Linked DNA regions of Homo sapiens. The protein of the gene in region 6 purifies or fractionates together with the protein of the main gene of each other region. This does not show direct contact. Each region holds a gene or a part of one and is shown on either strand. Other genes may lie near its edges.

Region 1 (3,500 bases), on a different chromosome or scaffold from region 6:
TGACTCTGGCGTCTGTTGAAAGACTGCAACTTCCAGGGGAAGGATTGGACTGAAAATTGGAGTTAATTTCAGCTCTTAGCATAGTAGCAGCTACCCATCCCCCACCCCAGCTCCATGACAGATATTTCCGCAAGTGTTCCTGCAGCAGTTTGCACACAGCTTGCAGGAGCCGGGGTGGGCATAAAAGGACCCTGTCCTCCAAATATTGAGAATCTGTGCTTGCTGACTGCTGCTTCTGATCACAGAGGTGCAAAGAGATGGGTGGTCACTGTTGCTACAACTCCCCACACTGTTGCGAGGCTCTCCTGCTTTGGGCTGAACTGACTTCCAAGGAATTTAAAGGGCTGACATCTTTTTACCATCTTCATTTTTTTTCTCTTTTTCTACTTTTGGGAGCCAGACGTTAACAACTAGGACACTCAAAAACAACTGCATATGCAGGGAAAATTAGAAAGTGATTGCACGTGCCCCTGCAAAGGCTCAGAAAAGACCTAAGGAAGACCTTAAGGTTACATCTCAGGCTAATCCTTGGTGCAGGAAGAGACTACAAGAATAAAAAAGACAAAAACAATAACAGAAAACAGCAAACCCTAGGGAAGAGGGAGAATCTGACTTCTAGAGTTACCAGAGAGCCATCACGATGTGTTGCACAAGGACTACCGAGAGCACAGTGTACCCTTAAGGAAGGCATTGGCCATCTACAGATGCCTTCAGTTTGCCCAACACTGTCCCCTTTACTTAATGACCCAGGAATCTGCTGTACCAAAAAAAGGTACAAATGGCTCCTGTCTCCCACGGACCTCCACACACACAGTCCAACCTTCTAGGATGCCCTGTGTACTCTCTTCTCTATAAAGACAAAACCCCCTCTGAGCAGAGGGCCCCAATGATACTTAACAATGATCACTCTGGCCTCACTCTAGACTCTGTGGACATGGCCCCTAATTTATGATCCTCAGAGGGCCTTCTAAAGACTCCTGAGCTCTGCTGGCCCTTACTACTCCTATCTCCAGCCCTCAAGTCCATCTGTGCCACTAGGGTATCTATAGCCACTAGGTCTTTCCAGAACACACTACTCAGTGGCCACTGGTCCTGTGCCCACCCTATTCCCGACCTGTGCTGTCTGACATGGAGGCCAAGTGGTCCAGTGCTTCCTCACTAAGCCGAAGCACAATGCCCATGAATGTGGCTGACTAGGACAGGCAAGACAAACAGATGTGGCACTTACAGAGTGTATGATGTCCACCATGTTGTAGGCTTTGGTTGATTCCAAAGGGACAATTGTGTCAAGCTCAGGAACCAGACGGTCACTTTAGGCAGAAAAAAGGCAGGTATAGTCAACATAGGAAGAGCCAGTTACCTTTTGTGGGAATGGGGTGGGAAAGGAAATGGGGTGACACGTCATAGGGACTGGGCCAGTTCTGTCCCTGCTGGGCTTACAAAGCAGTCACCAAAGAGTCATTCCTTTTTAACCACCATATTAACTGAACCTGGGACAAGTATCAATCCAAAAGATCTTCTGGTTCTCTTTTAGAGGAAAAAATGAGTTTATTCCTCTAAACGTTATTCTTTCATTTATCTTCTCTGAATACCTCCTACATTCTAGGTACCGTGTAGGGCACTGAAGGACATTATAGTGAACAAGACACAGCCCTGGGAGAGCCCAGCCCAACTTCCTGGAACATTAAAAGAACAAGGACTTGGAAATGCAAAGGCAGAGCTCTGCATAAACCACTGTGGGTTCACATTCCCTGTTAGGTTAATCTGCTAAAGCTCCTTCAAAAAGCAAAACTGCAGGCCCTCTGGGCAAAATCACCACAGAACCTGTCACATGCAGGCTCATGGACTCTCTCCTTCCTCCTGCATCCAAGTGTCTCAGCAGAAAAACTAAGCCAGAGCCCACTCCCACTCTACAGGAGGACCCAGCAACTTGCCCCTCTCCAACCTCTTCTCTCCAATAGGCTTTCATTCCCTCCTTCCCAGTGTGGGCAGCCAGGGGCTACAGTGACCCTGAGACGTACTCCTGGGCTGAGGTTTGGCCTTGGGTCAGGCCATGTGTCCATCAAGCCCAACTTCGCAAAAAGCTCTACGCTGGAAAGAAAACTAAGGGTAGCCCCATCTGCTAATAAAGTCCTCCCTTTTTACTTGTCATACATATATACACATATACATATGTGTATATATGTATGTGAACACATGTGTAGATATACATATATACACGTGTAGATATGCATGTATGTATATGTGTAGATATGCGTATATGCATATATGTGTTGATATGCATGTGTGTGGGCATGCATATATGCATGTGTGGGCGTGTACACATGCATATGTGTGGGTATGCATATATACACATGCATGTGTGTATACATGCATACATGTATATATGTATGCATATGCGTATACATATACATATGCATACATATACATGCATACATATGTACGCATATACGTACATACACATGCATGCATATACATACATATGCATGCATATACATACACATGCATATACATACATACACATGCATACCTATACATACACATGCATATACATACATACACATGCATACCTATACATACACACACATGCATACCTATACATACACATGCATATACATACATACACATGCATACCTATACATACACATGCATATACATACATACACATGCATACCTATACATACACATGCATATACATACATACACATGCATACCTATACATACACATGCATATACATACATACACATGCATACCTATACATACACATGCATATACATACATACACATGCATACCTATACACATGCATATACATACATACACATGCATACCTATACATACACATGCATATACATACATACACATGCATACCTATACATACACATGCATACATATGCATATATACATAAGCATACATATACATACATATGCATATACATAAGCATACATATACATACATATGCATATATACCTATGCATGCATATGTATGCATGTGTATGTGTGTATGCACAAATATGTATACATGTATGTATACATATATATGCATATACGTACATATGCACACATGAACATATGTATATACACATACACGTATACATATATACGCATATACACATGCATATATATATGTATACATATATATGGATATATATCTCCCTTGGAATCATATGCAGAAGAGGTATAGCTGGGCCAAAGCGGGCTATGCAGACATTTCTGGGCTCCTGGGCCATAATACCTTCAAGTGATGTCCTAAACCCTTCAGGAACTCCAAACTGTATACTCAGAAAGGCTATACCCACAGCTCTGGACCTTGTGACCACTCTCCCCTCCATGACTACACACAGTGGGCCACTGGGTATGTCCCTTGTGGAGTGGGCAGAGGCAGACAGAGTGAGGCCCTGGCAACACAACTCTTCAGAGCATCCCTGGCCCAGACCAGGCCCCACAGGAAGGAGTCCAGGTTTAAGCTACAGGATAGCATCTGAAAATGACCTCTTCCC
Region 2 (3,500 bases), on a different chromosome or scaffold from region 6:
CAGAGCAAATTCTGTTCCCATAGGAGAAGATGTGCTCTGGCTTCCAGACCTTCCAGGCCATCATTGGATATGGGCTAGGCAGTCCCTGGTGGAATCCAGGTAGAAGCTCCCAGGGCCCCCTAGGCTGAGGACCACACCATTGGTGGCCATCTCTGGCCAGGAGGGTGTGGAGGTTTGGAGGGACATGCAGCATCTTCCTTCATCACTAGTGGGATGGGAAGAGGACCAGTTTTCCACTCTAGACCTTGGCAGATCTCAGTAGACCCTGAGGGCCCACAGATTTCATAGACATATGGAATTGAATGAAATTACAAGGGGGAGAAGCAGGAGGAGCTGAGGTTGGTAGTTGAGATGTGAGGAGTGTGGGGAAAGAAACCCCACTTCTGTCCCATGTACCCCTAGGAGAGAGTAGGTTATCTTCTTTTGGTTCTCTTCTTTACCGAATAGCCTTAATCCGAGAGTTGAAATGATTTGTTTACATACATTTCTCTTCCTACCACACTATGGCTACTTAGAGGGCTGGGAGCAGTGTCTTATCCATCCCTGTATCCCTAGTACCTGGCACAGGGCTGGCACATAGTAGGTGCTCACTAAAGCTTGCTTGAATAGATGAGTCAAAGGCGGTTGGGGTGGCTTAGATGGCCAAGAGAGTGGTTGTCAAAGTGTGATTCATAGAATCCTCACCCAGTCCCACATCAGAATCACATGGGATTCTGTTAAAAATTCAGATTCTCCCGGTCCACTCCCCAGAAGCTCTGCAATGAGTAGGCATTGCAGGGGCCCAGGAATTTGCATTCTTTGTGAGATCCTGAGATGATTCCGAAGCAGCTCTCCATGGACCACATCTTGAAAAACTGTCACTTGGAGGAGGGAGTGACACTGGTTGAGAAGGTTCCTTCTGATGTCCCTGGAGGGACAAGGGAGGGATCAGCCCATAAACACAGATCCTGGTTCCAACATCCATCCATCCCTCTTCACTTCATAAATGATGTGGGTCCACTTGGGCCCATGGGTGGAGAAAACCCCAACCCCAGAACCTGGAGTTTGGGGGCTCTCCTCATTCTTCCAGGCCCAATGTCCTCTGCTCTGGACCCTTTGGTTTCAGCTGGGTTCAAGTTCCAGTCACCCTCCCGTTCTCACAGCACTCCCTTTCATTTTCCATGCCCCAGCCACAGAGACAAGCTCTCCTCTGCTGGAAAAGCCCTCCTCTCCCTTCTCTGATGATTAATACTTCCTCACCCTTCAGCTGTCAGCTTAGGCATAAATTTCTTAAGGGAGTTTTCCTTGGAGCCCCAGGTGATCCCAGATTCCGTCTTACAGGTGCTCCTAGGACCACGGCCCCTTCCTTATCTCAGCTTTCTAAACATACATTCATCATTACCAAGGTTGACTGCACTCCTGTCTTTCCCACCAGACCCTTATCTCTGCAAGGACAGGGACTGTATTTGGCTTTGTTCATTTTTTACCATTGGGCCCTCTCTGTGGTGGGTGTTTCCTAAATATTTGTTGGAGGAATAAATGTTGGCTAAGTACTCCGTAGGGCTGAGGAGGCCATAGTATGGGTGGCCCCAGGGCCCAGGTCTAAGAGAGGCTGCCTTAACCCAGCTTTGAGGGGACAGACAATGGGCCTCAGATGGGCTGGGATTCCCCCCACAGTCTGCCTCATGGCTCCCATTTCCTGATTTTCTAGGCTGTTCCCACCCACGAAGAGCTAATATGTCTAATTTCCCCAGAGACAGGGAGCTTCTTAGAAGAAGGACTGTGGCTTGTTCTATCTCTAGTCCTAGCATAGTACTTGGCACATACGGGTGCTCACTGAATGTGTGTCGAAAGCATGGTCGATAAATGCCATGAATGGATGGTAAAATGCCTGTCGACTACAGAGCACTTCACCATTCGCAAAGCACCTTTGCAGGCCTGTTCACGCTTGAACGTCATGGCCCTGCTATGGAATAGGCAAGGCAGTCTCTTCATCCCCTTCGAGCCAAAGAGTAAACAGATAACTTGCCAGGTCCCACTGGGTTTTATTGGTTTGTTGTTTGAGACAGGGCCTCTCTCTGTCACCCAGGCTCAAGTGCAGTGGTGCAACCATGACTCACTGCAACCTCTGCCTCCCAGGCTCGAGTGATCCTCCCCCTTCAACCTCCGGAGTAGCTGGGACTACAGGCATGCGCCACCATACCTGGTTAATTGTTTAAAATGTTTCATAGAGACAGGGTTTCCCTATATTGCCCAGGCTGATCTCGAACTCCTGGGCTCAAGCGATCCTCCTGCTGCAGCCTCCCAAAGTGCTGGCAAGACTTTACAGGTGTGAGCCACCATGCCTGGCTCAGGTGCCACAGTTAATAAAAGGTGGGGAAAGTTAAGTGGAGCAGTAATGGAAGTGCAGGTTCTCCTCCAGCTTGACGTGCCCTTACTTAGGGGTTGTCTCTTACCTGGCAGGGCTGGGAGGAGATGGGTAGTTCCTGAAAGGCCGATGGAGAAAACTGGGGAGTAGGTTACTACTCCCGTGACTGCCCAGGCCTCTACCCAGACCTGTTTCCACCTGTGCACTGAAATGGATAGGTAGCCACATGTGAGAGGTGAAGAGTCCCGGCCCCAGACTAGAACCCGAGCCAGGTCCCGAGCTGGCTGCTTCCTCCACTCAACATCCCCAGCTCAGTACTCTCAGGCTCTTGGTGCCCCTTGCTTATCTGACATCTGGCCCCTTTGCCTTAACTGGCTGCTTTCAGCCAGCTTCTTAATTCCCTGGAGACAGAAACTGCCTGCCTGCCTTGTGACATCATCTGAGAGTGGGAGCTGGAGCCCAGGTGCCATTTGGCATATAGGGGCTTTCTTCTTCATCTGCAGGTGCCCAGGATCTTTAGCACCTGGCACTGAACACCTACAGGCCTGTGGAATAACAGGGGCCGCCCAGCTGCCTCTCTTAGGGCCTCCATCTGCCCTCTCCTTTATCCCTTTCCTATTCTGTCTTTGGCTTTCAGGCCCTCAGGAGAAAAACTGGCCCACCAAGGAGTCTAAAATCCTAAGACCTTGGATTCAAGCCCAGGGTCCAGGCACGCTTCCCTGGTTCCTCAGGAAGGACCCCAGTGACCTGTTTATTCTCCAGGAGGCAGGGGCTAGGGGTGAAGGCATGGTCCTGCTTTGTAAGATCTGTCTGTCTGCACAGGCAGGCTCTCCCAGGCTTCACTATGGCATCTCACCTTTCCCGGGAAGGCGAAGGAGGGCCCTTTGCTCCAGCTTGGTGTAACCTTGTCCCTGTCCTGCTGCCTTGGGATTAGGCTTGAGGTTGGGAAAAGGGTCTGGGGGATTTTAGGCTTACAAGAAGATCTGGAGGAAACCTAGTGGTCTCTAACACATTGTCAGCAGCCTACCCCCTGGCTTGGCTGGGTGTGCCATGCCCTTGGTTCCAGGGAGACTGATCTGGGACAGTCAAACCCATAGCTCCTCTCCCTACAGTTCCAGAGAGGTGGATCGCATGGTCTCCACGCCCATCGGAG
Region 3 (3,500 bases), on a different chromosome or scaffold from region 6:
TGAGAACAAGAAGAAAAGCGTAATAAACCAAGGACTCACCTCTCCTACACTTTTCATAGAGCTACCAATTCGGCTAGATGTTCCATGAAAACGGTCAAGATCCCAGCGGGGAATCTTGGTGACCATGTAATCCAGGCTAGGTTCAAAACAGGCTGATGTCTTCCCGGATACGACGTTCTTAATTTCTGGAAGTGGGATTCCTAGGGCAATCTTTGCAGCAATGAATGCCAATGGGTAGCTATAAAAAGAAGACAAATTTATTTTTTTTTCTTCGAGCAATTATTGAAAACAGACCAAAACATAAATTGGTCTTTCTTAAAATTTCTGGTATTATTCTACTTCAGGGTATAAGACACTTGATTCTCTGTTCTGCATCAATATTTAGTAGCCACTTGCGGAATAATAGGAGTCATGATACAAAGTATAGAGGCACAGGTCACAGGAGAATTTACTCTCTGTGCACTACATGCATTGCTACAACGCTCAACCTTCACCTCTTCAACCCAAAATCGATAGCTTTATTGATAAATAAAGTTTAACCTTTATTTGTATTTAACCTCCACTAAGATGAGAATCTGCAAAATATTTTTTGAGAAAATATATACATATCTGTACATATACATATCTGTACCTAAGAATACAGTGGAGTTAGCTAGTACAAGAGAGTACATAATGGTCAGAAAATGTAGGCATTTCAAGTTTGGGTCCTTGCTCTGTCTCCAAATTATCTTTGAACTTTGGGCTCCTTACAAAACTAACACTTTGAGAACTTGACTATCTTCATCCAGAATGTCAGTTTGGGTTATTCTGTTTGAGAAAATAATTCATAGAACTATAGAATTAAAAATGAGTTCTTTAGTACAACTTCCACCTAACAAATGAGGAAACTGATAAAGACAATGAGTGATGTGCTCAAAATCACACGGTCAACAGAAGAACCAAGTGAGAATGCAGAATTGTGACTCCTGTACAGGGCAACATGCCTTTCACCACTCCACGCAGTGCTGTGGAACTACGTAAAAAAAATATAAAGAAGTAAATATTGTGTTCATTTAAATGCCATAATTTAAGTGTAAGGTGCTAAATATATTATTAGAAACCAAAGGTTTTGATTACCTTTCCCTCCAATCATGCCTGCTAGTGGCTGTTACATAGACAGCAGATGTATTTGTTTGGTTGTAACAGTTACTTGTGAAAAAATTCCGCACTGTTCAGTCTTGTGGAGTTTTGATAAAATAAAAGTAATGTGTATTGCATGCTTGAGTCAAGTGAGCTATATTTTCTGTCAACTATTTGCTATAGGGCTATACACCTGAAGAAAACAGCTGAAGACTAAAATTAAGGATTAATCTGCACTTTTAACAACATCTGCAAAGTGCAATTAGGAAGCAGATTTTTCACAGCCTGCTTTAGCCACCTAGATTTTGATTCGTTTAGATTAGCCTGCAAACAAAGCCAGCTAGCAATATAATTTACCTCAATCTGGCAACAAGCTCATTAATAATCATGTCCTCAGGGTGCTATAAATGATTTGGAGCTAACATACAGAAAAAGGGAACATAGTTTGTAAATGCAGTACAGTCTTCCACTATCTGTCAATTTTTCATTTCTATCTGAAAAGAATCTGCAAACCCATGGTCAATTATTCTGGTCTTACCCAGTGGCTTTTGAGGCCAGAGCAGAGCTTCGGGACAGTCTGGCATTCACTTCAATGATGCAGTATTCCATTGAGGTAGGATGAAGGGCAAACTGAATGTTGCATTCACCCACAATGCCCAAGTGGCGAACAACATTGATTGAAGTACGTCTCAACATCTGAAACTCGGCATTGGAGAGTGTCTGGGCAGGAGCCACAACAACTGAGTCACCTATATATCCAAGAAGCACTCATTACTTGGTGGCATATTGAAATAACCAACTTCAGCGACTTAACCATCTACTTGCACGATGCAAGACATAGAACAGTCTGAGGGTTTGTTGGGATATATATGTGATATCAGGTATTCCCCCAATTCCTGTTTTGCCCATATTACTCTGATACAGTACTTTTAGAAACCTCTCTAACCTTTCCCAAGTTCATCTATCTAGTAAGTAGCTATCAAGGCTTCAATCGTCTACTTACTAGATTGACTTCAACTTCCCTGCTCTTCATCTCAAATTATTTCTGAAGTTCTTCCTTTCATTGAATATTATCACTCAGACTGGCTCATCAGCTGGCTTTCTGTATCTCATCCCTTTCCATCTTCACTTCCCTCATCATAGCCCCTTATATCTGCAATCTTAGTCTCCATCCCTTCTGCCTTCAAACACGCTCAGATCTTCACTGCCTCCGGAAGTCTTCTCCCAACATTGCCAGACAACCATACAAAGCTTCTCTCTCATTCTTTACATGAATGAGCTTCTTGAAAGTTTGCCAATTCTGCTTACCACTTGATACCATGTAATTCCTTTTAATAGAGCTCACAGAACTGACTTTGCAATGAAATTGTTCTCTTGGACATCCAAAAGAGCCAAATTAAATAATCAGTCTTGGTCTTGCATAGCATTTGATACTGCCAAAAACAAAGCTCTTTTATAAAATAGTTCTTGCATTGGCTTAGTTGGTACAGTACTACCTGATTTTCCTCTTAACTCTTTATTCTCCCCTTCTATCTTCAACAGTAATACTTCCTCTTTCCCCTGCCCTATAAATCTAAATGTTTCCCAGAGTTCAAAGTTCAACCCTATTCTCTCCTCTTTCTATACCTATGTCCTTGAATACTTTGTCTATGCCTACAACTTCAATTTCCCCTTTTATGCCAACAGTTTCCAGTGTCTTTGTATCAACTTATTTATTTCTATTTTATTTCTTAAATTCCATCTCCACATTCTCAACTCCCTTTTTTGACAGCTCTGCTCACACCCCAAATTTAGCACTTTTAAATCCTAAGTTATCATCTTTGCCCTCTTATCTAACTAGTGTACTTTTCTGAAAAACTTATTTCTATTATTGTGCCTATTTTCTCATTTACTGGGTGATTACCAGCTCAGTCTGCTTTAAACTGTCTCAACCTCCCTTCTTATTTCTCAACACTAAGTTTTATGGATCTTATTTCTACCATATTGCTTACCTTTGGCTCTTCCTCAATTAACTCAGTGTAATATCCGCCTTACTTCACAGGGTTTGTGTGAAGATCAAATTAAATGTGAGAACATTTTCAATACTGTAAAATACTATGCTTGTCCAAAATGTTATCACTAGTCTGTCAACTAGAAATAGTAATTTAAAGGCAACAACTTTATAAAGACTGCCTTGGCCATCAAAGACATGAACTGAAAGCATTACTATAGTTCTTGAAGATACTTTGCCTACCTGTGTGAACACCCATGGCATCAACATTTTCCATGTTACAGACAGTGACACAATTGTCATCAGCATCTCGAACCACTTCATATTCTATTTCTTTCCAACCTGTCACTGACTTCTCCACCAGAATTTGGTTGGTCATAGCAAAGGCCTA
Region 4 (3,500 bases), on a different chromosome or scaffold from region 6:
CCGGCTCCTGGCCAGAAGCACTAAGTGCCTCCCCAGGCCAAGGCTCCTCCCCAACACCCAAAACCCTGACCCTGCCGCACGGCTCAAATAATTCCCATCCTCGTGCCCCTCAAGGCGGGCTATGGGAAACACCTGCACACAAGCAGGAAGCGCCAGAACGGGCCACGCTACTGTCAGCACGAGCTCAGGGCTGGGGAGCGCCAGAACGGGCCACGCTACAGTCCCGTCAGCACAAGCTTTAAGATTTTTATGCACAAATAAGGGTATGTGAATTAAGAAAAAAATTAATTACCCAACAGACTCACAAACAATAGAATCTTCAAATTTTTTCAACTTATTGTTCAATTATTTCAAGAAAACACTTCTATGCTCTACTCTGATAACATGGTTCTGAAATTTGAAATCAATCTTTGACATTGTAAAGTTCAAGCTTCTACCCTCTCCCACCAGTTACTCTAAATTAATGAGGTTTGAGCTTACGAAAAACAAAGACCAGGCCGGGCGTGGTGGCTCACACCTGTAATCCCAGCACTTTGAGAGGCCAAGACAGGCAGATCTCTGAGGTCAAGAGATCGAGACCATCCCGGCCAACGGGGTGAAACCCCATCTCTACTAAAAATACAAAAATTAGCCGGGCGTGGTGGCGTTAGCTGGGCGTGGTGGCATGTGCCTGTTGTCCCGTCCCCGCTACTCAGGAGGCTGAGGCAGGGGAATCACTTGAACCCAGGAGGCGGAGGTTGCAGTGAGCCAAGATCAAGCCACTGCACTCCACCCTGGCGACAGAGCAAGACTCTGTCTCCAAACAAACAAACAAACAAAAAACAAACAAACAAAAACAAAGATCCAGCATGGCTCAAAGGAGAGGCCACAGGGCTGCTGGGCACGACCTCAGCCCAAGAACGCTGCGAGGCCAGATGTTGCTAAAGAGGAGTTTCCCTGGTAGGCAAGACGGGTCGTGAGCGTGACGTCTCCCTAAATTAGGAGGGGAAGAGGGGACGTGACAGTCAGTGCAGCAGGTGACCTTGGGGACCAGATGAGCCACAGGGGCTTGAAGGGAGAGGGCCAAGAAAAGGCAGAGGAAAGAGGCTGCTGTGTGAAAGAGCTCTGAGAAGCTCAGGCCAGAGCCAGGTCACTGAGACCCACGACTCCCATCCCCTTGGGGACAGCCTTAAGGGCCTTGTCAGCAACCAGGGACACAGCTCGGGCGGACCACCCACATCAAGCGTTCCTGGCTGGAAGGCACAGCTTCTCTCTGGAGTTACCTGGCCTGGTCACCTCACCAGGTCCTCCTTGGAGAGAAGGAGCAGGAAACCTGCACTGGTTAAATGTACCTGGATCTTTCTAGAGGCACAGTGAGGCCCTTAGCATCTATGAGCTATGTCTGTCGCCGCTTTGTGGACAATGGAGCTAAGGGTCACAGAGCACCCGTGATCACATGACTTGTGCCCAAGGAATTAGGGCTGGCCCACCTCTGGGCAGCTGCAAAACCCACTCGTCCCCAGCCTTCCCACCAGACCAGCCTCGTTCAACAGATGCAGAGCGGGCGCCTCCACAGCCTTCACTGCACTGTTTTAAACGTTTCACACCAACTACCTCATCTCAAACTCAAAACTGCCAGAACTTAGGAGATAAATACTGTTACCTCCTTTGACAGATGCAAAGCCCAGGCCCAGAGCGATCAAGTGTCCAGCCAGAGGCTACCAGGCGGTGAGGGGCAGAGGCCCAGAGCCCACGATCTTAACGGGCCATCTACAGGCCCCAGACCCGGCTCCTGCCCTGTCCTGGCGCTCCCAGCTCTGCCGACTGTGAAGCCACATGCAGTCTTCACTGTCACACTGGTGCCCTGAGCTCTGCCCCCACAGCCAGGCCCTCTCCCTCCCCAACCTATGACTTCCCAAGGCTGTCAAGATGTAAAAAGTATTCCTTGTGCTCCTCACCGACTCCCTTAGATGAGTGAAGGAAGCTTTTTCCTGGATTTATCCCTGGGAAGTGACACTGCTCACCATCCTCCAGCCAGAAAGTCAACACTCCCAGCATTGACCATGGTGGCCGGGAACTCTCTAAAACACCTCAGACTCAGTAGGAGGTGCAGGGGGACGGCGTTCCCTGCTAAGCTCCGGACACTGGAGTGAGTGGGAGTTCCCAGACCCTCTCACTGGCCAGGCTGACGTGTGTGCTGCAGGGCTGCAAGGAGCACAACCAGGAGACGGGAAGGGCTGCGCATGGATCTGATGAAACTGAGAGGACCCTGCTTCGGCTTCAGGATCTAAACCCTCAAGAGTTATTTGTACAAAATGATAAGCAGCTAACCTCTGCAACACATAAAGCACTTGTTTAAGAAAAGGATCAAAACTGCCCCAAACATACAGACAGACCGAAAGAATCAGCACACACGGAGAAAACAGTTCAAACCCTGTTGGTCACCAAAGCCCAAGTTCCTGTGGCTTCAGCGTGGCTGCCAGGACGCAGAGCAGTTCTTGCAGAGCTGCGGAGACATGATGCAGCCCAGGGGCAAAACCACAGCTGTAATCTACTCTGGGGAATCGCCCCAAGAAACAGCCAGGGGCATCCCTTGCTCAAGGACATTGTCAGGTACAGGTTAGCTGGAAAGCTGCTGAGACCTCGGGTGCCTGAGGGAACAATCCCAGACCTGCTGGGTATCAGCATGGTAACCCGTCGAGCCTGCCTCACCTCTCCTGATGGAAGGGACGCTCCGTGCACTCGAGCCTGCCTCACCTCTCCTGACGGAAGTGACACTCCTCACGTCCAGCTCCAGCTTCTGCACCAAGGCGCTGGGGTCTATCTTGGTCCTGGCAAAGATGTTGGTGTTGATGAACGCCCAGTCCTAATGTCCCCAACAAAAACGGACGAAAAGAAGAGGTGTGAGACTTGCTCTGTGGTTTCAGAGGGACGTTAAAGGTGAGGAGAAGATGCAAGACAAGAACCTGGATTCCCCAGCTTCTCTGCCCGGGAGGACCTGGGGGAAACAACCCTCACCTCCCAGAGCAGAAGCCTCCGGTTCCAGAGCTCCAGGGCAGACCCGCAGCGCCCAGGCCCACCTGCTCCCTGCCTTCAATCACCAGACGGGCTTCACTCCTGGTTCTTCAGGAGTCAGGACCAGTATCTCAAGAACCAAATTTCCTTCCCAACCATTTCGTCTTACTCTTTCTACAACATTCTCCTGTGTCACAGAAGAAACCTGCAGCTGAGCAGATGAAGGATAGGCAGCTCCCAGCCTGACAGCTCTTTCAGCTCAGACTGACCACATCCCATCAGAACTAGTCATCTCAGCAGCCTCTCTGCCAGGTCTGGTTCTGAGCCACACTCATCCCTGCATGAAGATTTCAGTTCCTCCAAGTCAGCTGCCGACCAAACCGTGAGGAGACAGAACCCCCCCGTCCCTGACCCCCGTGCTGCCCAGCCCATTCATGTGCAAGCCTCACTGACCTTGGCAGGGAAGGCAGCATCGACCTCAACAGAGGTTTCTGAAGGGGGTCAGA
Region 5 (2,768 bases), on a different chromosome or scaffold from region 6:
ATTCCCTCCTCTGAGGCCAAGTGTTCCTCACTGTGCCCTTCCAACATAGTGGGGAAGGTGGGGCACCCAGAGGGGGTGGGCATGGAACTCCACTGGGCTGCTCCAACGGACCTTGGCTGGCCATCAGGAAAGAGGGCCGAACACCAGTCGGCGGGTGGCTGGCCCTGTCGGAATCCCATGGGGCCCAGCGCTGGGGGGTAGGAATGGCGGAGAGCAGAGGCACGGCTGAGAGGCTTAAGGAGGCGGCCAGGCAGCTGCTCTCAGGCCTCCCGCCTTATCTGACCCAAAGCCCCACATGGGGGGATGCTCTGGTGAGAACAGCTGTGAACGTGCAAGAACACAACGCAGATACCAGCGGGGGCCAGGCACGGTGGCTCACACCCATAATCCCAACAGTTTGGGAGGATCACTTGAGCCCAGGAGTTCGAGACTAGCCTGGGCAACATAGTGAAACCCTGTGTCTACAAAAAATACATAACAGCCAGGCGTGGTGGCGTGCACCTGTAGTCCCGCTACTAGGGAGGCTGAGGTGGAAGGATCAATCACTTGAGCCCAGGAGGTGGAGGCTTCAGTGAGCTATGATACCGCCACTGCACTCCAGCCTGGGCGGCAGAACGAGACCCTAACACACACACACACACGCCAGTAAACCTGTATGAAAACGTGAAGGCTGAGGGGCAGCAGCCTGAAGGAGGCCAACACCACCTTGGTCATTCAGATAGCAAGATACAAGGACGCAGGGATGGAGGGAGCGCCCGTTGCAACTTGATCCAGATAGATTTAGGACAAATAAAAGAAGTCCTACTTCTCACATTGGGTAATAAGCCTAATGGAACTCATTAGCCCCAAGGGAGAATACCCAAAGGAAATGGAAACCTTTTCACAAAGGGTTTGAACACGGTTTTGACAGACAGAGCCATCAACGGCTCCTAAGAGGAGCTGGGATATCCGACCTGGCAGGAAAGGCAATCATGGCCTCCACAGGTCTCCCCTGGGGGACTGGCTGACATTCGAATCCAGGGATGGAGGGCTTGGGGATGTGGCCAGCATAGCTATTCCTCTGGCAAGTATCAGGCAGCCCAGAAGTTCACCTCCAAGTCGAACGTGCCGGAGACAGGCTTGTGGTCGCTGATGCCGTACGTCATGTGGCTGCTGTAGCCCCTCAGAGACAAGGAGAAGTGTGACGCCGGCGGTATGGGAGTGTCGGGGCCAGCACAGGGCTGCCGCTTCAGCCTCCACAGGATGCGATCGGTCCATGCAGGCTTGCGTTTTTTCTCACTGCAGGGGCAGGGGGCATAAAGAGGAAGAATGGGGAAAGAAGAAAGGGTTGGCTAAGAGCAGAAATGAGCCCACATGAGCTTGCTGGAGCCCCTAACTCCAGCAACTACTGGCAGCCACAGACCCCCGGGGCCAGAGCCGGAGGGAGCAAGGCAGCAGGCAGGAAGGTGCCTAACAGAATCCAAAGTATGCCAGCACTTGTCAGACTTAGCCAGGACCCTCTGTATGTCTAGCTCATGTTTTTATGGATCAAATTGTGACTCAGAAACATTCCATTTCAAAGCTTTGCTTCTTTCTTGAGCAAAAGCAGCAGTGGATCAAAGCAGCTGAGGTTTGAGATTCTGAGGCTGGACACACCTGAGCTTGTATTTGGCTGCCCTGCATACTAGAAGTATGCCTCAGGAAAGGGAAGGGAAGCATTTAGGAAATGCTTACCAGAGGATGCCTGTGATCAGTACTGTTACCACACCTTTTTTTAAATTTAATTTTATTTTTTTAAAGAGACAGGGTCTTGCTCTGTCATGCAGGCTGGAGTGCAGTGGTGACATCACAGCTTACTGTAGCCTCAAACTACTGGGCTCAGGCGATCCCACCTCAGCCTCCTGAGTGGCTGGGACGGTAAGTGCGTGGCACTATGCCTGGCTAATTTTTAAACATTTTTTTGTAAAGACAGTATGTTTCCCAGCCTAGTTTTGAACTGCTGGCCTCAAAGGATCTTCCCATCTCAGCTTCCCAAAGTGTTGGGATTAGAAGGCATGGACCACTGTGCCTGGGTGTATCATGCTCTCTTTACAGGTGGAGAAACTGAGACTTAGCTTAGAGGGGAAGCACCTTTCCCAAAGTCACAAGGTACTAAGTGGTGGAGCCAGGATTCAGGGCCAGCCAGCATGACCACAGAGCATGTGCTCTTAACCACCAAACTAAACTAACCTCTCTCAGGCCTCAACTTCCTCGCCTGCCAGTGGAGGGAATAACAGTAGTTACCATGAAGGGTTGCTAGGATGAGTCAATGAGATAAAGTACATAAAATGTTTAGCACAGTGCTTGGTGCAAAACGAGCTCGCCATGCACACTGGCCTTTATGATTTCCTCTCAAGAGTCGACTGAGAGGCCGCGCGCGGTGCTCACGCCTGTAATCCAAGCACTTTGGGAGGCCAGGGTGGGTGGATCATGAGGTCAGGAGATCGAGACCATCCTGACTCTCTACTAAAAGTACAAACATTAGCCAGGCATGGTGGCAGGTGCCTGTAATCCCAGCTACTCGGGAGGCTGAGGCAAGATAATTGCTTGAAGCTGGCAGGCGGAGGTTGCAGTGAGCTGAGATCATACCACGGCACTCTAGCCTGGGCGACAGAGCAAGACTCTATCTCCAAAAAAAAAGGAGTCGACTGAGAGACCTCCCACCTGTTCTTCACTTGCCAGTTTCCCTGAGGGGTTTGGAAAAGGTAATACGCTCCGGAGACAAAATGCATTCCTCCTCTAGGTAACTG
Region 6 (3,500 bases):
CTGATGAAAATTGTTTAAATTAGGGCCAGGTGCAGTAGCTCACGCCTGTAATCCCAACACTTTGGGAGACCAAGGTGGGGCGGGGGGCAGATCACTTGAGATCAGGAGTTCGAGACCAGCCTGGCCAACATGGTGAAACCCCGTCTCTACTAAAAATACAAAAAAATTAACTGGGCGTGGTGGCGCACGCCTGTAATCCCAGCTACTTGGGAGGCTGAGGCAGGAGAATCACTTAAATATGGGAGGTGGAGGTTGCAGTGAGCTGAGATCGCACCACTGCACTCCAGCCAGGGTGACAGAGTGAGACTCCGTCTCAAAAAAAAAAAAAAAAAAAAGTTGTTTACATTAGGAAAAACAATGCTACTTTTTTTTTTTTTTTTTTGAGATGGAGTTTCGCTCTGTCGCCCAGGCTGGAGTGCAGTGGCATGATCTCGGCTCACTGCAAGCTTTGCCTTCTGGGTTCATGCCATTCTCCATCCTCAGCCTCCCAAGTAGCTGGGACTACAGGTGCCCGCCACCACACCCAGCTAATTTTTTTGTATTTTTAGTAGAGACGGGGTTTCACCATGTTAGCCAGGATGGTGTCGATCTCCTGACCTCGTGATCCGCCTGCCTCGGCCTCCCAAAGTGCTGGGGTTACAGGTGTGAGCCACCACGCCTGGCCAACAATGCTACATTTTAAACAGAAAGCTAAATTTAAGAGTTACATCATTACTTTTCTGAATTACATCATTTAAATCTAACCTTTGGGAGAATTCTGGAAGTTCTACCTGCTATTTGTAGGTGGCCTTCGTAGTGGACGATCCCGACGTGGGGCTTCAGGGTGGTGAACGGGTAGGAAGCCACGGCGGGTCTGGCGTTTGAAATGGCCCGGAGCAGTGAGGACTTCCCGGCGTTGGGGAATCCCACCTGGGGGAAAGAGGGAAGACGGTGGCACGGCCCGCGGCAGCACCTTTGTTAGCGCAGAGTCTGTAACTAACTGGGATTGGAGGGAGGATTTCAGGGCTGGGGGAGTCACAAGGGCTCATGCTCACGACCAAGTCAGCAGTGTACTGATGGGAAAAAGGTGAGTCGCAAAGCTGTTCTCTTCCAGGCCACTGGCAAATCCCCATTGAGAAAAGTGGATTTTCTAGAGCTGAGTGTGTGCAGATGCTGTTGGCAGTGGGGACACCTACCATTCCGGCGTGGGCCACCGTCTTGAGCTCCAGGTGGAGAACTCGCTGCTGTCCTGGCTGTCCAGGGGTACAGGTCACAGGGGCACGGTTGTTGTTGGCCAGGAAGAAGCGGTTGCCTTTCCCTCCTGCCCCGCCCAGCGCGGCAATGTACTCATCTCCCACGCAAGACAGGTCGGCCACAACTCTGCCTCCCTCCTTCACCAGCGTGCCCACGGGGACCTGGGGAACAGCAGGCACTCATCAGCTGAGCTCTACCAGCAGTGAGGAAAGGAGGCCTTAACCCATTCCTGAAGCAAGCGCTAAGGAAAGAAGACAAGAGCGGACTGTGCCCCGGGCAGCTGCCCGCCCCACTCACCTCTGCCAACAGCTCCGGAGCACAAGGAAAAGGTCCCAGTGCTCCAGGGCTTTCACGGGGCTGCGTACACACCCTTCTGACTGCACAAAGGGCTTTTTCAAATAGTGTTTCTAAAACGTTAGTGTGAACTGAAGCACCAGAAAAAACATCTAAGAGACGAGTGAATTCAGCTCGCGAAGGAGACGCAGGCCCGCTGGGTGCCAGTGGCCTCCCTCAGTCAGAGGTCGGCTCATGGGGTCAGAGACGGAGGAAGCGTCCGTGCCGTGGGCTCCCTCTTTTTAAAAGAGAATCGTTTCATGACTTTTTCACTAGACATGCACATGGTGTGAGACCCTGGTACAAATGCCCGTCTGGGTTTGCTTTGAGGGGTGGGGCTGCTTTCCCGCTGTCTGCCAGCCTCCGTTTCCATTGTGCTGTTTCCTAGCTGTGGGCATCAAGCCACAGGGGCCCCGTGGGTCACACGGTGGCCCCCAGGAGCTGGATGATCCAGAACAACGGGGACAGGGCCAGGTCCGGCAGTCTCGGCTCACCCGGATGTAGAGGACGGCGCCACTGCGCCCGAAGCAGTTTTTACTCCCTCCATCTTCTCCACTGAAACCCTGGTACCGCGACAGGACCGACGACAGGGACTTGACTTGCTGGTCAACTAAAGCAAGAACAAGAATCTCAGTCCCTTTGTGTTACGACAACCATGGCCTATTGCTGATGTGTCTGGGTCCAGTTTAAGAACCTTAAAAATAGGTATGGAAGCATGGAGTGAGGGTGCAGCAGAAGTTACAAAACCAGCAAAGTGATTTTTTAAAAATGAAATCCTTATTTTCCTTCAAAAAGTGCTATCATTTCTGAAAATTTTTAAATTTCTTATTTTTTACAGTAGCTGTATTCTATGCTTTTGTTGTGAAGGCTTCACTCCCAGCTCGCTATGCGTCTATGCTGAGTGTGAATATAACCAGCAGCCAGCGGCACCCACCGAACCCACCACACAGGCCTCGTGCTTTCACGCGACCGACATGTCAGCTTCCCTGACAGGAAACTCTCTGTGCTCCTGAAATTAAACAAACAAAACAAAACATGTTCAAAGTTGCTTTTTCTTTTTTTTTTTAGACAGAGTCTCGCTCTGTCAGCCAGGCAGGAGTGCAGTGGCATGATCTTGGCTCACTGCAACATCTGTGTCCTGGGCTCAAGCAATTCTCGTGCCTCAGCCTCCCAAATAGCTGGGATTACAGGCATCTGCCACCACGCCTGGCTAATTTTTCTATTTTTAGTAGAGATGGGGTTTCTCCATATTGGCCAGGCTGGTCTTGAACTCCTGACCTCAGGTGATCCACTCGCCTTGGCCTCCCAAAGTGCTGGAATTATAGGCATGAGCCACTGCGCCTGGCCTCAAAGTTGCTTTTTTGGGTGTGCTACTTAACTATGAATATCCATATAATTTTTTTTTTATGTTTTATGTTTTTATTTTTTTGAGACGGAGTTTCACTCTTGTTGCCGAGGCTAGAGTGCAATGGCACGATCTCAGCTCACCGCAACCTCTGCCTCCTGGATTCAAGCAATTCTCCTGCCTCAGCCTCCCTAGTAGCTGGGATTACAAGTGCCCACCACCACGCCCAGCTAATTTTTTTTGTATTTTTTGTAGAGACGGGGTTTCACCATGTTGGCCAGGCTGGTCTCGAACTCCTGACCTTAAGCGATCCACCCGCCTCGGTCTCCCAAAGTGCTGGGATTACAGGTGTGAGCCACCACGCCCGGCTGAATATCCATATAATTTATAAAAATGATATCCATACATCAGGGTTTTTTTTGTTTGTTTGTTTTGTTTTGTTTTTTTGAGATAGGGTCTTCCTCTGTTGGCCAGGCTGGAGTGCAGCAGCACAATCGGAGCTCACTGCAACCTCGACCTCCTGGGCTCAAGCCATCCTCCTGCTTCAGCCCCAAGTAGCTGGGACTATCAGTGTGTGCCACCACATCTG
Region 7 (3,500 bases), on a different chromosome or scaffold from region 6:
AGGTGATTAGTTACACTCCAGTTAATGGGTTAAATAGTGTTTATGGGTGCATCCATGGTAAGTGAAGAGCTTTCCTTCATACTAAAAAACACATCTGAAAAGAATGGTGTCAGTCACTGAGAGGAGAAAAGAGAGGTCAGTGTGCCATACAGAAAGAAAAGCATGTTCAATGATGATTTGCAAAACTTGACAAGCAGAGGAAAGAGAAAAGCCTTCCATACCATGTGCCTGAAGAGTGAAAGTGTCGGTCATGGCTTTCTCCTTGAGGATGAGACCCAGGGCTGCCTGGCATAAAGACTCTTTGGCTGCAGCCTTCCGACTGAGCAACAACTGTTTGTGGTGTTGAGGGATGAAATCAGTGTGCACGTTCCCAGCTTCAAACTCTGGGTGGCCAGACAGGTTGAGTAAGAAGTCAATGTTGGTGTGCAGTCCAACAATCTAGGAAGAGAATAAACCCCCAGTTCCTGCTGAGTGGGGAAAACAATATGTTCAGAAAACCATCTGCTCTTTTTATCTAAGTATTTTCTACTGTGAACAACTCTTAGGAAAAATAAAAAACCTACTAAGGTACCATGTGGCAACAGGACAATTCTCAGGAAAAAAAACACAAAAAAACCATCTCACTATCACTATGTCCATCCGCTATTACTATATCCATCTGGACTTGACACTAAAAATTACATTTTAATATGACAAAGAGGATGCTGGAAATACCGAGGCACTTACTTGACTCAGGTTAGGAACATAATAAATGTTAAGAAACATAAATGAAATTCATTTGCAAGGTATCGAAGACTTGCTGCTCAGAACACTTCCACAGAATAGGAAGACTGCAAACAGCAAGCTGGATTGCTATACTGGGGAGAGGATAGGATTAAATGCCCTCAAAAGAGCTTCTTTCCAACAATAAAATCCAAATTTTATATACCGATACAAAAATTTTAAAAGGTATAAAATTAACCCAAATACACCAATAAATGGGATCAAAAGTAAAACCAGCTATCTGAGCTTTGGGTTCATTCATTCACTCATCCATTCCTTCATTCATTTAACAGCCATTTCCTGAGCATCTCTTAAGTGCCAGGCTCTGATCCAGGCACTGGGGACATAGTGAGGAACAAAACATATGATGTCCCTGCCTTCACAGTCTCTGCTTACATTCTAGGGCAACAAGTAACAATATCTGTAAACAGGTATTGAATATAATGTTACATGCTATGAAGAAAATGAAGGCTGGCTAAGAGGATAAAGAATAACAAAAGGTCATACTTTAAATGGGGCAGCCTGGGAAAGGGCTCAGAGCAGGAGAGCAGGGTAGTCAGGAGGGAGCCCTGCAATCATGTGGGGGAAGAACATTCTGGAAGATTGGACAGGAATGCATGGCTCCATGCTGAGTGAGTCTCAGAAGCGGTGAGGCGGCCAGTGTGGTTGGAGCCACAGAGACCAGAGCTTTGATCAATTATTAACAATAACAAGTTGAATAACTGGGTTAATAAATCCTTCTATGAGCCAAATCAATGTGGTATGGGACTTTCTGCACCAAGGAAATTAATGTTCTACAGAAAAATAACAAACTCTATTAAAGGGATGAAACTGAACATAATTATTTTACTTTAGAGAAAAACTACTGGACTGCAGGCATACTGGGTAGCGAAAACAACATTCAGGAAAACATCTGCTTTTATTTCCTAAGTATTTTCTACTGTGGACAGCTCTTAGGAAAAATAAAAAACCTACGAAGGTACCATGTATAGCTGGCCTTATCTACAGAGTGAATAGGATTTCACCGAAGCATAGCACTGACACTAACAATTTTACTTCTGCAATCTTTCTTTTGTAACTGAAATGAAGAAGTCCTCAAACCCTGTTCTGGCCCACGCAAAATTCTCCCATGTGAAACTATTTTGTTTGGGCAATTGATGGAAATAGAAAATATGCTGACGAGACCAAGGCCCTGCCAAAGACAAAGGCTGACCTCTGGTGCTGACCAAACACATCAAGGTCACTGGCACGGTCTCAGATCACTCACATTGTACTGACGAAGGCTGTACCTCAGTTTTGTCAATGCCGCCTGGCGATCTGCTGCCCACACGACCAGCTTCGCAATCATGGGGTCATAATGCACGGAAACTTCGTCTCCTGAAATTGAAAACCACGGTAACCTCTTCAAGTCAAAACACGAAGGAATAAAATACAACGAGCAAGACATTTTGTTATGTACATTTCACGCTTAATCCTCATAAACCCCTGCATGATAAATAACAACACAAATTTATTCATGAGGACCCTGAGGTTCAGAGGGCTTTGAAAACTCACCAGGTGTAACGAGGTGGGCCACCCAACAGCACCAGGCCCTAACGTGGTGATTCAATGGCACACAAGCTGGCTTTCCCTGTCCTATCTTCTTCTGAATCTTCTTTTCCCTTCTCATTTTCAAAGTCAACACAATCTCCCTCCACCCTCTCACATTCCCCTCATTTCTGCCCTTAGCATTCCCCTCCCCTCCACTCTTTCAGTTTCCGTACTAGTCAAGCAAGTTTAATAATTCCTCTGTCCTGCAGGGTTGCTGGGAGGAGTGACAATAAAGTGACAAGTGCCATACCTGGCAAAACTGATAAACCAATGGCAGCTATCATCACTGGGATGGTTACAGTCCTAGAGAACAAGAATCTGAACCAGGGCACATTCCACTGGTTAGAAATGGTTCAAGTAGAAAGGATGTGGTGTGTTGAAAAGAACGTTGTTGCAGGGTCTTTCCAGGATTTTGGCAGGTCACTTGACCTCTTTGAACCCCAGAGTCCTCGTTGATAAGATTAGAGGTGCCTACAGGTGGCTCACGCCTGTACTCCCAAGACTTTGGGAGGCCGAGGTGGGCAGATCACAAAGTCAGGAGTTCAAGACCAGCCTGGCCAACATAGTGAAACCCTGTCTCTACTAAAAATACAAAAAATTAGCCGGGCGTGGTGGCGGGTGCCTGTAATTCCAGCTACTCAGGAGGCTGAGGAAGGAGAATCATTTGAACCTGGGAAGTGGAGGTTGCAGTGAGCCAAAATCGTGCCATTGCACTCCAGCCTGGGCAACAAGAGTGAAACTCCATCTCAGAAAAAAAAAAAAAAAAAAAAAAAAAAAAAGGAAGGAACCGGTGGGGCAAGCAGAGTTAAGATGCTTTGCTAAGTTAAAAAGTCTACTAACTACCAAATCTTGCTGTGGCTTATCCAGAGCTCTCAAAATGCTGCCAATTTATTTTTAAGAAGATCTAAATCCTCATTTTGGCTTTTAGGACACTAGGATTTGCCTTCAACCCATGTCTCCAGTCATATATTTTCTTACTATTCTTCAAACATACCTTTTTCTCTTTTCTTCACTCTTCATTATGCTGTTTAAATCTACCTATCTAAATCCATTCCAGACATCCTCTTAAAAACTTGTCCTGGCCAGGCACGGTGGCTCACCCCTGTAATCCCAGCACCTTGAAAGGCCAAGGTGGGCAGATCACTTGA

Evidence for each region.
Region 1: the proteins of MTG2 (region 6) and PCCB purify together in Homo sapiens (affinity purification with mass spectrometry; one large-scale study listed by BioGRID and IntAct). This does not show direct contact.
Region 2: the proteins of MTG2 (region 6) and ACSF2 purify together in Homo sapiens (affinity purification with mass spectrometry; one large-scale study listed by BioGRID and IntAct). This does not show direct contact.
Region 3: the proteins of MTG2 (region 6) and CPS1 purify together in Homo sapiens (affinity purification with mass spectrometry; one large-scale study listed by BioGRID and IntAct). This does not show direct contact.
Region 4: the proteins of MTG2 (region 6) and SLX9 purify together in Homo sapiens (affinity purification with mass spectrometry; one large-scale study listed by BioGRID and IntAct). This does not show direct contact.
Region 5: the proteins of MTG2 (region 6) and INPP5K purify together in Homo sapiens (affinity purification with mass spectrometry; one large-scale study listed by BioGRID and IntAct). This does not show direct contact.
Region 7: the proteins of MTG2 (region 6) and MCCC1 purify together in Homo sapiens (affinity purification with mass spectrometry; one large-scale study listed by BioGRID and IntAct). This does not show direct contact.

What each region holds. Positions count from the first base shown.
Region 1 is NC_000003.12:136,298,840-136,302,339, reverse strand, and holds part of PCCB (propionyl-CoA carboxylase beta chain, mitochondrial isoform 1 precursor), read right to left. Parts: intron 1,311-3,500; coding exon 1,229-1,310; intron 1-1,228. UniProt on the Homo sapiens protein: This is one of the 2 subunits of the biotin-dependent propionyl-CoA carboxylase (PCC), a mitochondrial enzyme involved in the catabolism of odd chain fatty acids, branched-chain amino acids isoleucine, threonine, methionine, and valine and other metabolites.
Region 2 is NC_000017.11:50,457,218-50,460,717, forward strand, and holds part of ACSF2 (medium-chain acyl-CoA ligase ACSF2, mitochondrial isoform 2 precursor), read left to right. Parts: intron 1-3,459; coding exon 3,460-3,500. UniProt on the Homo sapiens protein: Acyl-CoA synthases catalyze the initial reaction in fatty acid metabolism, by forming a thioester with CoA. Has some preference toward medium-chain substrates. Plays a role in adipocyte differentiation.
Region 3 is NC_000002.12:210,605,099-210,608,598, reverse strand, and holds part of CPS1 (carbamoyl-phosphate synthase [ammonia], mitochondrial isoform b precursor), read right to left. Parts: intron 3,498-3,500; coding exon 3,353-3,497; intron 1,869-3,352; coding exon 1,658-1,868; intron 239-1,657; coding exon 40-238; intron 1-39. UniProt on the Homo sapiens protein: Involved in the urea cycle of ureotelic animals where the enzyme plays an important role in removing excess ammonia from the cell.
Region 4 is NC_000021.9:44,943,029-44,946,528, reverse strand, and holds part of SLX9 (ribosome biogenesis protein SLX9 homolog), read right to left. Parts: intron 2,846-3,500; coding exon 2,692-2,845; intron 1-2,691. UniProt on the Homo sapiens protein: May be involved in ribosome biogenesis.
Region 5 is NC_000017.11:1,496,845-1,499,612, forward strand, and holds part of INPP5K (inositol polyphosphate 5-phosphatase K), read right to left. Parts: intron 1,279-2,768; coding exon 1,092-1,278; intron 1-1,091. UniProt on the Homo sapiens protein: Inositol 5-phosphatase which acts on inositol 1,4,5-trisphosphate, inositol 1,3,4,5-tetrakisphosphate, phosphatidylinositol 4,5-bisphosphate and phosphatidylinositol 3,4,5-trisphosphate.
Region 6 is NC_000020.11:62,196,528-62,200,027, reverse strand, and holds part of MTG2 (mitochondrial ribosome-associated GTPase 2), read right to left. Parts: intron 2,576-3,500; exon of another isoform or gene 2,501-2,575; intron 2,177-2,500; coding exon 2,061-2,176; intron 1,395-2,060; coding exon 1,176-1,394; intron 910-1,175; coding exon 771-909; exon of another isoform or gene 745-770; intron 1-744. UniProt on the Homo sapiens protein: Plays a role in the regulation of the mitochondrial ribosome assembly and of translational activity. Displays GTPase activity. Involved in the ribosome maturation process.
Region 7 is NC_000003.12:183,036,997-183,040,496, forward strand, and holds part of MCCC1 (methylcrotonoyl-CoA carboxylase subunit alpha, mitochondrial isoform 1 precursor), read right to left. Parts: intron 2,140-3,500; coding exon 2,030-2,139; intron 439-2,029; coding exon 222-438; intron 1-221.